Linked DNA regions of Homo sapiens: region 1 is linked to region 2. Evidence: fine-mapped expression QTL. A gene starts in region 2. The other region holds a variant in brackets. All regions are shown on one strand. Distances are between the middles of the regions.

Region 1 (8,335 bases), 100 kb after region 2:
AGGGAAGGTTCAGGGCCCCTTCGCAGGGATGGATCAATATCTATGATTTTTTTCCCCCTGTTTCCCACTGCCTTTTTTCCATGAAGCCCATGAAATTTTTATCTAGCCTGGGATGGAGAAGGGACAGCTGTTGGACAGGAAAGCTATCCCCTACTGTACATTCTTGCAAATCTTCTAATTAATGCAAGGAGAAGCTTTTGTAATTAAAAAGCTAGTCATTGACCCCTCTATTTATTGTGCTCTATTTTAAAATAGTATCCTGCCACCGTGGCATGGCTTTATTTTGTGGAAAATGCTAAGCAACTCCATATCTTTGGTTGCCTGGCTAATATCTGTACAGGTTGGCTGTTTTAGACTCCTGTGTGGGCACCATGAGGGGCCTGTGGGCCCCTTAGTGTTTGGCACTGGCACTCCGCCTGTCTAATGACAGCATCTTACCAAAGACACATTCTCTCTGAGTTGTTGAATATGATTTTCAAGGTCGTTGATGATAGTTTTTGTGCACAGGAGAGATTATTCAGAAGTACCTTTGATTTTTAAATTGGTCTTTGATTTATTAGTTAGAATTTAAAGAAAATCTTTTGTATTTTTAAGCTTTTAAGTTTAGATTACAAATCTTATTATTTTATTTATAAGCCTAGCAAGTTATAAGTCACTTCTAAGGAGGCTTTGATTAATGTTTGGTCCCATTTAAAAACTTGGTTAAACTACTTTTAAACTGCTTTTATAAATTTAATATATTCAATTTCCTTTTAGGTACTATAATTGTCTGACTTAACAAAACCTTCCCGAACACTTAAATAACTTATAAATCTAATATATTAGACTTAGAAATATGGTAAACTTTTAGTTCTTTTAACGTATTCAATTCTGTAATAAACCTATTAAATCTGAACTTAACATCACAAGTCTACATCAATTACATATTTAAAATTAGAATCAAAAGAATAACCTCTTATTCCATTAGGCTCAATTCTCTTAAACATTATATAAGTACATAAAACATCACCAAACATGCATAGAGTTCTTCACCTGAAAATATTAATGCTACATATTTTGAAACCACCCAATTGTCCCATAGAACTGATGTTTGTGGTTTCTTTTGAATAAACATAGAAATTGACCCTCCCACTTTTGAAACTTGCAAAAGTTACATTTGTCTTATCTGAGTTCCTTTCTCAGAAAACCAACCATCAGGCCTCCCAGATAACATCAAGGAACTGAAACTTACCAGATTACCACATCTGGACAATGAGAGGCCAGACCCCTCACCTGTCATGATTGCCTAGCCCACCACCTGCTTCCTGTTGACCAATTCCTCTTCCTTACCTCTCCCTAATTCCTGTTTTCCCACATGGTTACATTTTCTCCCTGCTATTTTAGTCAGTCAGGGAGACAGATTTAAGACTGATCTCCCATCCCCTTGGCTGCAGCTCCTGATTAAAGCCTTCTTCCCTGGCAATATTTGTTGTTTCAGTGATTGGCTTTCTGTGTGGTGAGCAGCAGGACCTAGATCAAACCCCTGGTGTTTCACTAATAATTTGAGATTCTTAAACATTTCTATGTTGATTTTTAAACCAGCCTGGAATTAAAAGATGCTGATGCACCAAGAAATAACCATGCTATCCTGGACAATCTTCCTCATCTTTTCTTTTTTCCTTTATATGTTTGCTCCCCAACCAACCTGACTACATCTCAGTTGCCACCAACTGCCCCTGTGAATTCAATTAAAGTTGCTCTCTTACTGCCCTTGTGAATTCAATTAAAGTTGCTCTCTTAGGGTTTCTGCTTTCTTGCCTGCCTTCCTTTCTTTCTCTTTCCTTTTCTTTTTTTCTCTTCTCTTCTCTTCTTCTCTTCTCTCTTTTCTTTTCTTTCTTTTTTGAGATGGAGCCTCGCTCTGTTTCCCAGGCTGGAGTGCAGTGGCGCCATCTTGGCTCACTGCAAGCTCCGCCTCCCGGGGTCATGCCGTTCTCCTGTCTCAGCCTCCTGAGTAGCTGGGACTACAGGTGCCTGCCACCATGCTCAGCTAATTTTTCATAATTTTTTTAGTAGAGAAGGGGTTTCACCGTGTTAGCCAGGATGGTCTCGATCTCCTGACCTCTTGATCCGCCCACCTCAGCCTCCCAAAGTGCTGGGATTGCAGGCATGAGCCACCACATCCAGCCAGGGTTTGTGTTTTCTTTACCTATGAAAATTGGATGGGCCTGGTGTGGTGGCTCACACCTATAGTCCCAGCACTTTGGGAGGCTGAGGCTGGTGGATTGCTTGAGCCCAGGACTTCAAGACCAGCCTAGGCAACATGGTGAAACCCTGACTCAACAAAAAATACAAAAATTAGCTGAGTGTGGTGGTCTATGCCTATGGTCCCAGCTCCTTGGGAGGTTGAGGTGGGAGGATCACTTGGGCCCCAAAGACGGAGGTTGCAGTGAGCCAAGATCATGCCACTGCACTGCAGCCTGAGTGACAGAGGGAGACCCTGTTTCAAAAACAAACAAACACACCAAAAAAAACCTGGAAGAGATTAGGTTAGGTGATCTCTAAAGTCTTAGCCATAAAATTCTGGAATTCATATTTTTCTGTTTATTCACAAACATAATTTTCCATTTAGATTTATGAGAATGAACAAAATTGCTAAAAAACAACACTTACTTTGCTTGTAAAGCTACCAATACAGAGAATGCTCACTATTGCACATATTATGTTTGCAGTCTGCTCCTGTTGCAAAGATTCTAATGATGTTTGGGCTTCTTGACCTCAGAATACAAGCAGTCAAGAAGTCACATCTGGAAACATCTACGGTGTTTTAAAGCCAGGAGGATATAGTTGTAAAGTACATGTTCCAGTTTATTTTGAAAATTGTGTCCCTGATTGATGGGTTTTGTCATTGCTACTCCTTCTGAGAATGGACTGAATTATCCTCTCTATGCCTGCCATTTTATGCCTAGTTTCTGAAATAGTATATTGAGTAAAAAATAAATGGAAGGTGGTATGCATAACAGTAAAGGGTGGGAGCTTGAATTAGACCCCCTTTTGTTCAAATACAGATTCACTCCTTAAAAGCATTGTGACTTTGATGAACAACTTTATGCCAACAAATTGGATAACTCACATGAAAGGGGCAAATTTCTAGAAAGACACAAGCAACTGAAATTTACTCAAGAAGAAATTAAAAATCTGATAGACCTTTCAAAAGCAAAGATAATAAATTAATACTTAACAATCTTCACACAAAGAAAAGCCCAGGGTCTGGTGATTTCACTGGTGAATTTTATCAAACATTTAAATAAGAGATTATACCAGTACTGCAAATTTTTTTTTCTGAAAATACAGAGTGAAATACTTCCCCATGCATTCTATCAGGCCAGTGTTACCCTGATGCCAAAACCAGGAGAAGACATCATAAGAAAGGAAAACTATAGACCTGTATCCCTTATGAATATAGATGTAAAAATTCTCAAAAAAATTAGCCAACTGAATCCAGTAATATACTCCAAAAATTATACACCTTGACCAAGTAGGATTTAACCTAGGAATGCAAGGTTGGTTTAACATCCAAATATCAACTAATGTAATACACCAAATACAACATAATCGTCTCAATAGATAGAGAAAAACCATATACCAGTATCTAACACCCATTCATGATTTTAAAAAAGTTATTAAACTAGAAGGACATTTCCATAACCTGGTAAACAGCATCTATGAAAAAACCCATGATGAACAATATACTTAATGGTAAAAGACTGAATGCTTTCCCCCTGACATTAGGACCAAGGCAACTTGGTTGCCTTGCTGTCCTTGCTGCCACCTCTTTTATTCAGAATTGTACTGGTGGTTCTAGACAGTGAAATCAGGAATGAAAAAGAAATAAAAGGCATCCAGATTAGAAAGGAAAAAGTAAAATTGTTTTTGTTCACAGAGGATCCTATATATAGAATTCATGATTCTATATGTAGAATACTATAAGGAATACACACACACACACCCTGTTAGAACTAATAAACAAATATAGTAAGGTCACAGGATACAAGATCACTATACAGAAACCAGCTGTATTTGTATGAGCAATGAACAGTCCAAAAATGAAATTAAGGTTATAATTTCAGGCTGGGCATGGTGGTTTATGCTTGTAATTCCAGCACATTAGGAGGCTAAGGTGGGAGGATCACTTGAGCCCAGGAGTTTGAAACCAGCCTGGACAACAGAAGGAGACCTTGTCTTTACCAAAAGTAGAAAAAAAATTAGCCAGGTGTCATGGTGCACCTGTATGGTCTCACCTACTTGGGAGACTGAAGTAAGGGTATCACTTGAGCTCAGGAGGTCAAGGCTGCAGTAAGCCGTGATTGCACCACTGCACTCCAGCCTGGGTGACAGAGCAAGCCCCTGC[CA/C]AAAAAAAAAAAAAAAAGAAAAGAAAAAAAAGAAAAAAGAATATAATTCCGTTCACGGTAGTATCAAAAATACTTAGGAATAAAATTTTTAAAAGAAGTGTAAGGCTATACACTGAAAATTTCAAAGCTTTGCTGAGGGAAATTAGAGAGGATTTAAGTAAATGGAGAGACATTCCATGTCTAGTGTTTGAAAGACCCAGTATTATTAAGATGCCAGTTCCTCCCAAATTGATCTATAGATAAACGCAATCCCTATCAAAATTCCGGCGGGATTTTTTTTTTGGCAGAAATTGAAAAGCAGATCCTAAAATTTATAGAAAAATGCAAACACCTAAAATAGCCAAAACAATTTTGAAAAAGAAGAGTAAAATTGGAGGATTTTCATCTCCCAATGTCAAAATTCACTGTTAAACTACAGTTATCAAGATAGTGTGGTACTGGCATAAGGACAGATACATAAATCAAAGGAAGAGAATTAACAGTCCAGGAATAAATCCTTGCTTCTGTAGTCAGTTGGTTTTTGGCAAGATGCCAAGGCAATTCTCTGGGGGAATGGATAGTCTATTCAACAAATGGTGCTGGGATAATTAGATATCTATATGTAAAGAGATAAACTTACATCCTTGCTTCATACAATATACAAACATTAACTCAAAACGAATCATAATTTAAATGTAAGAGTTAAAACAGTAAAACTCGTAGAAGAAAACATATAATTTTCTAGACCATGAGTTAAGAAAAAATGTATTAGATACAACAATAAAAAAAGCACATCAGTAAAAGAAAAAAATTGTTAAATTGGGCCTCATCAAAATTCAAAACTTTTGAACTTCAAAAAACACTATTAAGAAAATGAAAGGACAGGAAACAGACTGGGAGAAAATATTTTCAAAACATATATCCAATAAAGGACTTATATCCACCATTTACAAAGAACACTTACAATTCAATTATAAGAAGACAAAAATCCAATTAAAAAATTGGCAGAAGATATAAATAGACTTTTCACCAGCAAAATGTGTGTGTGTGTGTGTGTGTGTATGTGTGTGTGGTGTATGTATGTATGGCTAATAAGTACATGGAAAGATGTTCAATGCTATTAGTCATTTTGAAATGCAAATTAAAATCACAGTGAGACAGCATTTCACACTCACTAGAATGCCTATCATAAATAAGACAATAACAAATGTTGGTTAGGATGTGGAGAGACAGGAATTTTTATACGCTGCTGGTAGGAATGTAAAATGATGCTGCCACTTTGAAAACACTTCGGCAGTTTCTCAAAAAATTAAACATAAAACTACCATAGGACACTACAATTCTACTCCTAGGTAGAGAGAGATGAAAGAAAAATGAAAACATAAATCCACATGTAAGGCTTGCATACAGCTATTCATAACAGTGTTATCCATATAGGCCAAACCTGTAACAACCCAAATGTTCATCAACTGGTGAACCGATAGACAAAATGGGGTATAACCATACAATGGAATACTATTCAGCAATGAAAAGCAATGAACTACTGACACCACATCACAGATGAAGCTCAAAAATATTATGCTAAGTGTGAGAAGCAAGACACAAGAGACTATATATACATGATCCCATATATATGAAATGTCCAGAAAAGGCAAATTTATACAGACAAGGTGGATTAGTTGTTGCATGGGGCTCAGAGTATTAGTAAGAAGTAACTGTAAATGGGCATGAGGGATCTTATTGGAGGGATGAAAATGTTCCGGAACGGATGTATGGTATGGTTGCACCACTTGGTAAACTTACTAAAAATAATGAATTGTACACTTGAACTGGGTGAATTTTATGATATGCAAAAAAATTGTGAAGTTGTTATAAAGAAAAAGCAGGTGACTTTGGGCAGGTGACTTAATCTCTCTCTGCTTTAGCTTTTTCACCTGTACAATAGAGATACTGAGCGTGTTCGCCTCATAGGGTCATTGGGCAGAGTGAGTGAGATAGCATATACATAATGTTTAAAATTAGAGTGCCTGACATGTAGTAGTCACTCAATGAAATGATTATTCTGAAATCACTTCGGAATGATTATTCTGAAACATTGGAACACAGGTTTGAAGGAATAAGAAGTTTGTTTCTTTTATGGGAAGATACTAGCATGTTAAAAAACACTTACCTCTTATTTGACACTAAACTCTGTATCAGTGGCATAGAAAAACTGGTAGGAAAGAAAAAAATATTTGTGGGAAACTGATAAAATTTGGCTTAACAGGTCAAATAGACAAAGAATTAAGTTTCAGGGATAATGAAACTAGAACGATTTATCATTTCTACTTATTAAATTCCAACTTAGTAGAAGTGAAAGATATTATTAGCCAAAATAAACTTCAATCAAGATGCAGTAAATGTTTTTCTTTTTTATTTAAAAATTTTAAGTATATAAAACATTTATACAGTTTCAAAGTCAAAACTACACAATAAAATACATAAAGAAGTCTAGCTTCTTTCCCAATTCCTTCTAACTTGTCCCCTTCTTCCCTCACAGGTAACTTTTTTTTTTAAGTTTTTGGATTATCCCTTGCTTTTTACTTTTTTGAAAATAAAAGCAAACATATACATATGTGTGTGTGTATATATATATACATATATGTAAATATATATGAAAATAAAAGCAAACATATACACACATATATGGCCTTTCAACCAGTTGACCAGGATAAATTTATTTATTTTTAGAGAGAGCATCTTGATTTGTTGCCCAGGCTGTAGTGCAATTGTGCAGTAATGGCTCACTGCAGCCTCAAACTCCTGGGCTCAAATGATTTTCCTGCATCAGCCTTCCAAGCAGCTGGGACTACAGGCTCATGCCACCATGCCTGGCTAATTATATTTTTTATTTCTCATAAAGACAAGGTCTTGCTTTATTGCCCAGGCTGATCTTGAACTCCCGGCCTCAAGTAATCCTCCTGCCTTCGCCTCCCAAAGGCAAACATGTATTTTTATCAATTAATTAATAACATGTAGTGTATCAAGTCAAATGCCAGGTTACTTGGAGTTTGACAGAGCCATAGATATGTTTCTCCCCTCCCCGTTTCTTACCAAAAGAAAGGTACCTTACTATCAACCTTGTCCCCATGCTTCTTGCTTTTTTCGTTTAACAATATATCCTAGTCATTATGCCATGGCAGTAGAGATCTTTCCCATTCCTTTTTTTGAGTGACATAGTACTCCATTGCACAGCACCATGGTTTATTCAGCTAGATTCTTGGTGATGATCATTTGGATTGCTTCCAGTCTCTATTATACGTAATGCTGCAATGCATAGCCTTGAAGTTGCAGCAAATTTAAGGTGCAAACTATGAACATTCCTTGGCATCTGAAAAAGTTTGTTCCTTAGTAAGCCAAGTTAGCTACTGTTTATATAATTGATGCAGCACTGTTTGTGAAGAGATTCCATTTGGAGCACTTGTTGGTTTGAATCACCTTGGAATTATTCATTTTTCTAAGCTACTAGAATGTTTTGGAAACAAATCCCTGATAGTAAATACCATTTCTTATTAACTATGTTATGTAAATATTGAATTGTTTAATATCTATTACCAAATTGTTTGACCATCTTTAATTAGTATTTCAGGACTTTCTGTTTTGTTGTACTAGGCATCAACTCTGTGAACTTGTTTCATGTATTGAAGCAGGGAAATTGTGGGAAATTTGGGATCAACAAAATTTATCAAGTCAAATGTCAAGTATTTAGAGTCTGACAAAGCCCTAGATATATTTTGTGAAGACTTTTAAATGTCTTGACACTTTTACAAACATTTATAGTTTTCAACTTTGATTGCTTTTTACACATTATCTGTGTTCACTGGAGAAAAATTAAGGAGTTCAGACAAACAGAAAAATAAGTCCCTGTAATTCCAATCCCCAGAGATAACAAATATTAGCATTTGGGTACATATTTTTCTAGACTTTTT
Region 2 (8,271 bases):
ACTGTTGACCAGCCAGGGCCTTGATTAATATTTGCAAAAGAACGAACTGGAAAATTCCACCTGTGTGGGTGGAGGCTGGACCCGCAGGACTTGTCAACAACCCTGATGGCCTTGTTCTCCCAGGGATGGATCAGGCAAAGAAGCAAAGGTCGGAATAACAATGACAGAATCTGGGGATTACCGTGACTCTTGGGTCCTAGGGAATTTCCCCCCCCACCTTTTTTTTTTTTTTTTGGTTCTGCCTCTCCTGCCCCTAAATTTACACAGCACTCTTAAATCCTTCAACTTGCTTTCCTATCTGCTGTTTTGCTGTTTCTTCTGCGTTTCCTAACAGCCCTGCTGGGGAGGCAGAACTGATGTCAGCCCCATGTTACAGATGGAGAAACAGGTTCCAAAAGACTAAGAGCCTCACTCAAGGCCAACAGATGGTGAATGAGCCGCAGAACCAGGTGGTCTGGAAGCCAGGCATCTCACCGCGCTGTGGCTGCACAGAGTCTGTGCAGACCCTAGGGTCTGGGTCAGGGCCATAGGTACTTGACCCAGTGATCTTCCAGGCTCTGGCAGAGGCCCTGACCTTTGCTCTGCTTGTGAAGAAAGAGGAGGAAGTTCAAACCAGCTCCCCTGGGTGGGCAGGCTCAGGCACTGGCCTTGGATGAAGGTAGGTGTTAATTTATTCATCCATTCAAGCATTTAATGAGCACCCCCTACAAAGCCCCCCCGGACAGGAAGGCACACTGGCTGGTAGCTCTTTCAGAAACCCAGACCTAGCAGAATTTATGACTGAAGGGAGAAGGTCAGAAAATGTCCAAAGGTCGCTTCTCTCATAGACTCAAATCACTTCATCGCCCCTATCACCACCCCATTTTACAGAAAAGGAAACTGCTCTGAGAAGAGCAGTGACTTGCCAGAGCCTCCAGTTCAAAAAGCCACAAAGTCATCAGGCTTAGGCAGCCAAATAAATTGTGTGCCTTCCGGCAGGCCACCTGGGACCTCTCATGCAGGGCCACTTGAGGCATGGCCTTCTGAGCTAGGGGGGAAAACCCCCGAGGGGACAGGCAGACACACCTGTTTGCCCACCTCAACCTCCAGTTGTGGCTACAGGGCCCTTCACACCCTCTCCTCCACTCCACAGCCCCAACTACGAAACTGAACCAGGTATCACCCCATCCCTAAGCCCCAGGGGGCCAGGGCAGTGTCATTCTGAACCCAGAACAGCAGGAAAGCCACTTGGCCTGGGTCTTGGGTCTCTGCCTGGCAGCCCCTGCCTGAGTACTCCTCCTTCTTACAGCTCAGCCACCTCCAGACCACCCTCACCTGACACTTCTTCCCCTGGGGGGAGAAAGAACCTCAGCCCTTCTCTTTTTACAAAACCCCCTCCCCTATCCTTTTGCCAAGGCTTCCTGTGACTGCCACCAACCAGCCTCAGTGCCCTTGGTCTCTCTGCCCCATCTGACCCCATGAGCTCCTCCCTCACTACTGGGCTTTCCTGCTGCAGCCCCTTAGACCTCCCCACCTCCTCAGGCAAGCTCTCCTCCCCAGGGCTCTATCCTCCTCTCCTCTCCACTGCCCCCTGAGAAAGTCTGACTCATGAACCCTGTCTCCAGGCCTAACCTCCGCACCCTGGTTGTCTCAAAGCCTGTGTGCCGAACAACACCAAGCTCACAGCAGGGCCTGCCCTGGCACACAACTGAAAAGCCAGCACAGCCCAGAGCCTGGCCCACAGCACAGAATCAGATACTCACGGAATGAACGCATGTTAGTGAATGGCTGCCTGCTCGCTCGTCTCAGAGGGACTAGCCCTCTATTTTGCCCTGCAGAGCCAACCAGGTGGCCTTTCTAAAACCAAAAATGGATGACCATTTAAGCCTGTACCATTGTTCCTCAGCACCATGGGACAAAGTTCACAATCTTGAGCTTGCAGACGAGGCTGTTTTCATCTGGGCTTCCGCAGCAAGGCGGGTACTTGTGTCCTTGAAAATAATTCTCACTGCACTCATCCTCACTCCAGGAGTACCCATCAGCCAGCACCCATGTGTGGTTCACCTTTGCACCCAGCAGGTATTTGCTGAACAGGAAGATGACTATTAGAGCTGAAAATGTTCTCAAGGGCCACAGGGCCCAAAGCAACTCAGAGAGGTGGAATGAGGGGCTCAGGGTGGCCCAGTCCCAGGCAGGGGTGCGGCCACAACCTCAACTGAGTTCCTTGGTCAGGAAACAGAGCAATTCTCTGAAAATGCTACCTGCAACTCCACACGTATGCATGCCAGAGCCCAAACCCCTGGCTGATCCCCAGTCCATGCAAGCCTTAATCAAGCTGGCAGGTGGGCCAGGCCTGGCACACAAGTAGGGCCTCAGCTAAAACAGCTGCTTGACTTAGTACAGCCTCTCACCAGCTGACAACACACCCCTAAGTTCCATACCCCTCTCTAGGCCTCCGTCTTCTCATCTGTAGAATGGAGCTAATTCTGCCTACAAGTTTAAATGGCCCTGAGTTGGTCACCACAACCCTGTCGTTTGCAAACCGAGGGGGCTGAAGCAGCAGTTCCAGCCTCTGTGACTCCACTGTTAGCCCAGCTGATTTTTGTGAACTTTCCCCCAAACCCACTGTGTCTCAAAGGATGGTCCCTGGGCCACCCACCCACGAATTACGGGGGCGTGGGTGGAGGCTCGTTAAATGCAGATCCCGGGCCTGACCCGGACCTGCCGTCTGGATCTCATTTTAGGCGGCGCTAGAGATCCCGGGCCAGGGAAACTTGAGAACCGCAGCTCCAAATCGCCAGTGCTGACGGCTTCCGCTTTGGGAGCCCCAGGTGTTGCTGTCCGAACTCACTTGGTGGAAACAGACATTTACCAGAAAGCCTGGGGTCGGGCAGCGGGCACTCCTACCGCTCTAACCCCGCGTAGCTGAAAGAATTCGCTCCCTCAAAGGAGTCAGTGAGCTTCGGCAGTCTGCGTTCCACCCGTTTCGCTTCGCGCGGCGGGGCGATTGTGTAAAGCGGGCCCGGGTCTCGGCGTCCAGCCCGGCCCCAAACCTCCGGCCCCCAGGCCTCTCCGGGCTAGCGGCCGGGCGGCGCTGCTGCGGGGTGGTCGGGGCGCCTCCGCGGCTACTCACCCGGGGCGACTCGGCCGAGAGCCCGACAGTCGGGACCGGAGCGGGAGGAGCGGGTGGCCGCGGCCCGGCCCCTGCCCCGCGGCACTTTAACCGGCGGCGCCGGCGCCCCGCGCGCTCTCTGCGTCCGGAATGGGGACGCAGCAGTTCCGACCCGGTCGGCCCCGGAGCCGCGAGGCTAGCTGGGCTCCAGCGGAGGCGCGCGAAGCCCGAGGGCGGGTGCAGCTGATGCACCTGGCTCACTGCATGCACGTGTGCGCGGGGGTAGGCGCGCGCCGCGGCGGCCCGTGCTCCGCCAGCGCTCGGACACGGCCCATCCCTCCGAGCCCCAGCAGGCGAGGGCGCTGCGACCTGCCCCAGCCTGGGAGGGGGCCAGCGGGCCCGCCCTCTGTTCGGGTGGCGGGAATGGGTCGGCGCTGCGAGAGGCGGAGCCGAGAAGGGGCGGCCCGGCGGCGCCGGGATAAAAGCGCAGCGTGCGGGTGGCCTGGATCCCGCGCAGTGGCCCGGCGATGTCGCTCGTGCTGCTAAGCCTGGCCGCGCTGTGCAGGAGCGCCGTACCCCGAGAGCCGGTAAGCCCCCGCCAGCACCTCTTCCCTCATCTCCCGGCCCTCGAGCCCAGATCCTGACGTCGTCTGATCCGCCAGTCCAGGCTGCCCCGAAGGCGTGCGCGGACTGCCGGCTCAAGGGGCATGCCTGCACCCTCAGGGCAGCCCCGGACATCGGCGTCAGGTTGCTTGAGTCAGGGGCGTGGGAATCAGACAGACCCGGTCTCAGATGCCACCCTGTACTGTTGGTTCTGTCATTTATGCTCACCAAGTTCCAAGTCCCGAACGGTAAAACGAAGGGCAGTACCGAACCCACCAGGGTCTCTTAAGGTATAACGACATGGCCTGCAATTAGCGGCGAAGGGCCTGGCACGTAGTTATTGTTACTTGGGGTCTGCTCACCTGTTGGGGCACAAGAACTGTTTCTCCATTAGTACCCCCTCCCTTTTTGGCCATATTGATTGCCATGTTCACTCGTGAAGGCAGTTGCCTTTCTTCCCCAGTACCCTGAATGATCGAGGGAATCTTCTGGGTCACTGAAGAGAAAATAGCTCATCCCCCAAATAACCTTTGAAATGATACCGCTGCCCTCTTAGAATAGCATATAGCATCAAGCTCCGTAGTCACCTGCTGGTGGACAAACCCCATTCACTGTTTCCTGATGTCTTCAGCTCCTATCCTTCCCCTCTGTGTCAGTTCAGAAGCCCTCTTGGCTCTTTGCACTAAAGGGAAGAATTCATCCCTTTTGCTGTAGTTGCTGCAAGGCCAACAATTTGAGCTTGGTAGCATTTAGGGTTGTTGCTTGGCCTCTCACCGGCCGTTTGATAAGAACTCAGCTCCTGGTATGATGGCTCATTTGTTAAAAAAAAAAAAAAAAAGTCAAGTCTGGCCGGGCTCGGTGGCTCACGCCTGTAATCCCAGCACTTTGGGAGGCTGAGGCGGCCGGATTGCCTGAGGTCAGGAGTTTGGGAACAGCCTGGCTAACATGGTGAAACCCCGTCTCTACTAAAAATACAAAAAGTAGCCGGGCATGGTGGCAGGCGCCTGTAATCCCAGCTACTCCGGAGGCTGAGGCAGGAGAATCACTTGAACCCGGGAGCCAGAGGTTGCAGTGAGCCGAGATCTGCGCCACTGTACTCCAGCCTGGGTGACAAAGTGAGACTCTGTCTCAGAAAAAGGAAAAAAAAATCTGATGATATCCCTTAGAGTTCATTTTTTAAAAGACAAATAAATGATTGACAATTTTGCCCAAACTCAAATCATTCAAACCATCAAAAGGAGATCTTAGAAGGTGTTTGGAAATGTGGATGCTCAGCAGCATATTCCAGAGCTGCTGGACGTATCACATTGAGTCTTGTCATTTGAGCTTGCTGCTGCCTAAAGCCCCAATATTTTAGGTTCAGTATTTTATTCCAGAACCAAAGCACAAATTATTTTTTCTTATGAAAAAACACGAGCAGCTAACTTCAAACGATTTAGTACCAGCCTTTCTTGAACACTAATAATTGCTTATGGTTTCGTGAATTGCTCAGTGAGTCCTTTTGTGTTAGAAGGGGAACATTTTAAAGAACCTGAGGAAAGTACCATGGACTGCATTCAGAGCTTTCTTTTGTTTATCTCCTTAGCATAGCTACTCCTTAACCTGGGGTAGCCCAGTAAATACTCTAGGCCGTCCTAAAAACCTAGAGTTAAACATTAGAGTGTGAAGGGGCCTCACATCGGTCCCAAGTCATCCCCTGCTTGCAGCAGGGAAGGATGACATCCAGAGACAGATGGAGACCCACCTGTGGTCTTCAAGTGAGGTTATGCACTGGCTTGAGGATCAGGTATACTGATGGCTAATCCATGGTCCGTCATAGCCTACAGTGGGACAGCTTAGTTCCCCCCTAAGCTGTGAAGCAGAACCAGTTCATCTTTTCTTTGAAAGTTTGTCACTTGTATATGCATTTAAGGGGAAAATGGTGTTCTGCCTAATTTGGCAAAGGAAAGCTTGTGGTTTGCCGGCTTCAACGTGACGCTTGGTTTTTTCTCTCCCACAGACCGTTCAATGTGGCTCTGAAACTGGTAGGTGCATTAGAGAATGGGTATTTGGGGCTTTACATTGAAAGCACAGTTGGACTTTTAGGAAGCCTAATATAGGCAATAGGTCATCGAAGACCAGACACAGGGTGACCCATTGCTTTATTGGCTGATGCAGATGAAGTCTCTGTCTGCTCGAAGCAGAACTCTGGGGCTCTGTGGGAATGAGGCCGTGTTTCAGACAGGCTAGCCTCTTGGCCAGTCAAGATGGGACTTGCCATACAAGGTGGAAAGTGATGCCTGCCACTCTGCAGAGGGAGATCAAGGCCGTGGAAGGAAGGTCACTTAGAGTTGGGACCGAGAAGCAAATGTTTCATAGGAGAGCGGGTGTTTGAGATGGTGGCATTTGAAGAATGGGTAGGCTTCTGCCCAAAAAATGTGGGTAGGAAGAGTGAGCTGGAGGAGAGATGGCACCAGCAAAGGTTAGGAGGTGGGAAAGTGGGGGCTGTGTGGGCCAGCTGGCTGGAATCCAGGGCCAAAGCCTGAGGAAGGCAGGCCTGACTCTAATAAACATGTCAAATACACTAAATATATACATGTGTACATACACAGGTACCTGGAGTGGTCCCACGTGCTCTGTAGGTGAAAGCCAGGAGGTTGAGAGTACTTCTGTTAGATCAAAATTATCTGGGCTATAAATCAGCCAGCGCTAAGAAACATTTGGCCTTAGCAGGAAGAACTGAGGAATTGGGTCAGGCGTGGTGGCTTATACCTATAATCCAAGCACTTTGGGAGGCTGAGGTGGGAGGATCATTTGAGGCCAGGAGTTTGAGATCATCTTAGGCAACAGAGTGAGACCCCATCTCTACAAAAAACATTTTTTTAATTAAAAAAAAAAGAAGTGAGGAATTGTGAATGGGGGAAGGTTTGGTGTGAGTCACTGAGAGGAGATGGCATGGCATCAGACTGGGCTGGGAAAGACAGTGTCATGGAAGTCTTGCTTTTTCCCAGGGCCATCTCCAGAGTGGATGCTACAACATGATCTAATCCCCGGAGACTTGAGGGACCTCCGAGTAGAACCTGTTACAACTAGTGTTGCAACAGGGGACTATTCAATTTTGATGAATGTAAGCTGGGTACTCCGGGCAGATGGTAAGTTTGCATCCATCAGAGATAAGGCCCAAAGTGTCTACTAAATCAGAAATGTGCAGACTATATGAACCATTAATTCCCCTTCTACGCATAACCAACAGAAATACATGCATACACGCACCAAAAGCCACATACTAGGGTGATCGCAGTAGCACTACTTACAACAGGCAACATTAGAAAGCACTCAAATGCCCAACAGTAGAAAGGAATCACCAGATAAATTCCGTCACAGCAACAAGAATGAATGATCTGTAACTACGTACAACAATATGGATGAATGTCACAAACATAAGGCAGATTCAAAAGAGTTTGTACATTTATATCTGTGTGCATGCCTGCAGGCATACATGCCATATGATCCCATTTACAGAAAGTGCCAAGCAAACAAAACCAATCTAGTGTTTAGAAGTCAGGATAGTAGCCAGGAGCGGTGGCTAACGCCTGTAATCCCAGCACTTTGGGAGGCCGAGGTGGGTGGATCACTTGAGGCCAGGAGTTCGAGACCAGCCTGGCCAACATGGCAAAACCCCATCTCTACTAAGAATACAAAAATTAGCCAGATGTGGTGTTGCACACCTGTAATCCCAGCTACTCGGGAGGCTGAGGCACGAGAATCGCTTGAACCCAGGAGGCGGAGCTTGCAGTGAGCTGTGATCGCACCACTGCACTCCAGCAGCCTGGGCAACAGAGTGAAACTCCGTCTCAAAAAAAAAAAAAAAAGCAAAAGACCAGGCGTGGTGGCGCATGCCTGTAATCCCAGCACTTTGGGAGGCCAAGGCGGGTAGATTACTTGAGGTCAGGAGTTCAAGACCAGCCTGGCCAACATGGTGAAACTCCATCTCTCCTAAAAATACAAAAAATTAGCCAGGCATGGTGGCACATGCCTGTAATCCCAGCTACTTGGGAGGCTGAGGCAGGAGAATAACTTGAACCCAGGAGGTGGAGGTTGCAGTGAGTTGAGACTGTGCCATTGCACTCCTGCCTGGGTGACAGAGAGACTGTCTCAAAATAAAATAAAATAAAATAAAATAAAAGTCAGGGTAGTGGTTCCTGCTGGGGTAGGAATAACTGTAAGGAAGTATGAGGAGCACACCTGAGGGAGTTTCTTAACCTGCATACTGGTTGCATGAGTGTCCCGATGCATCAAGTGGTACACTTATGTGTGTACTTTTCTGTGTATGTACTTCATGGAAGAAGATAAGGTAAGGCGAGAGATGATTTTCCCCACCCCACTTCAGTTTAGGGAAAGCACTGGCTTAGATAGATTACTTTTCCACTTCCCAGATGACGTCACGAAGCTTTTGGCATTTCCCCAAGATTGTGCTGCAAGGCACCATATGAGTTCTTTCAGTGAGCTACTCCTGGGATCCTAATGCCCATCCTTTTGGTTTCCATCTGCTAAATTCAGATCGGAAAAAAGTCTACCTGGTCAAGAATCCATGAGTG

Direction of the effects. Alleles are on the strand shown, and positions count from the first base shown. SD is a standard deviation of normalised expression in the study named.
For the expression in skin of the gene that starts at base 3,598 in region 2, allele C in region 1 goes with a lower level than allele CA (moderate effect, 0.43 SD a copy in TwinsUK).

What was found. PIP is the estimated chance that this variant, and not a neighbour inherited with it, causes the effect.
Region 1: its variant is fine-mapped to the expression of IL17RB in skin (TwinsUK, PIP 0.95).

What each region holds. Positions count from the first base shown.
Region 1 is chr3:53,944,827-53,953,161 of GRCh38, forward strand. No RefSeq gene overlaps it. Among named protein-coding and RNA genes, the nearest start is that of SELENOK, 57 kb to the left of the region's middle. The variant CA/C (reference allele first, on the strand shown) is at 4,388.
Region 2 is chr3:53,842,971-53,851,241 of GRCh38, forward strand. IL17RB (interleukin 17 receptor B) reads left to right here and starts at 3,598. Exons shown (of 11, transcript NM_018725.4): 1 at 3,598-3,678; 2 at 5,694-5,718; 3 at 6,685-6,825. The coding sequence starts at 3,619. It overlaps CHDH (choline dehydrogenase), which reads right to left and starts at 3,449. Exons shown (of 9, transcript NM_018397.5): 1 at 3,113-3,449. RefSeq lists enhancers at 1,724-2,564, 2,565-3,405, 3,352-3,646 and a silencer at 2,997-3,646.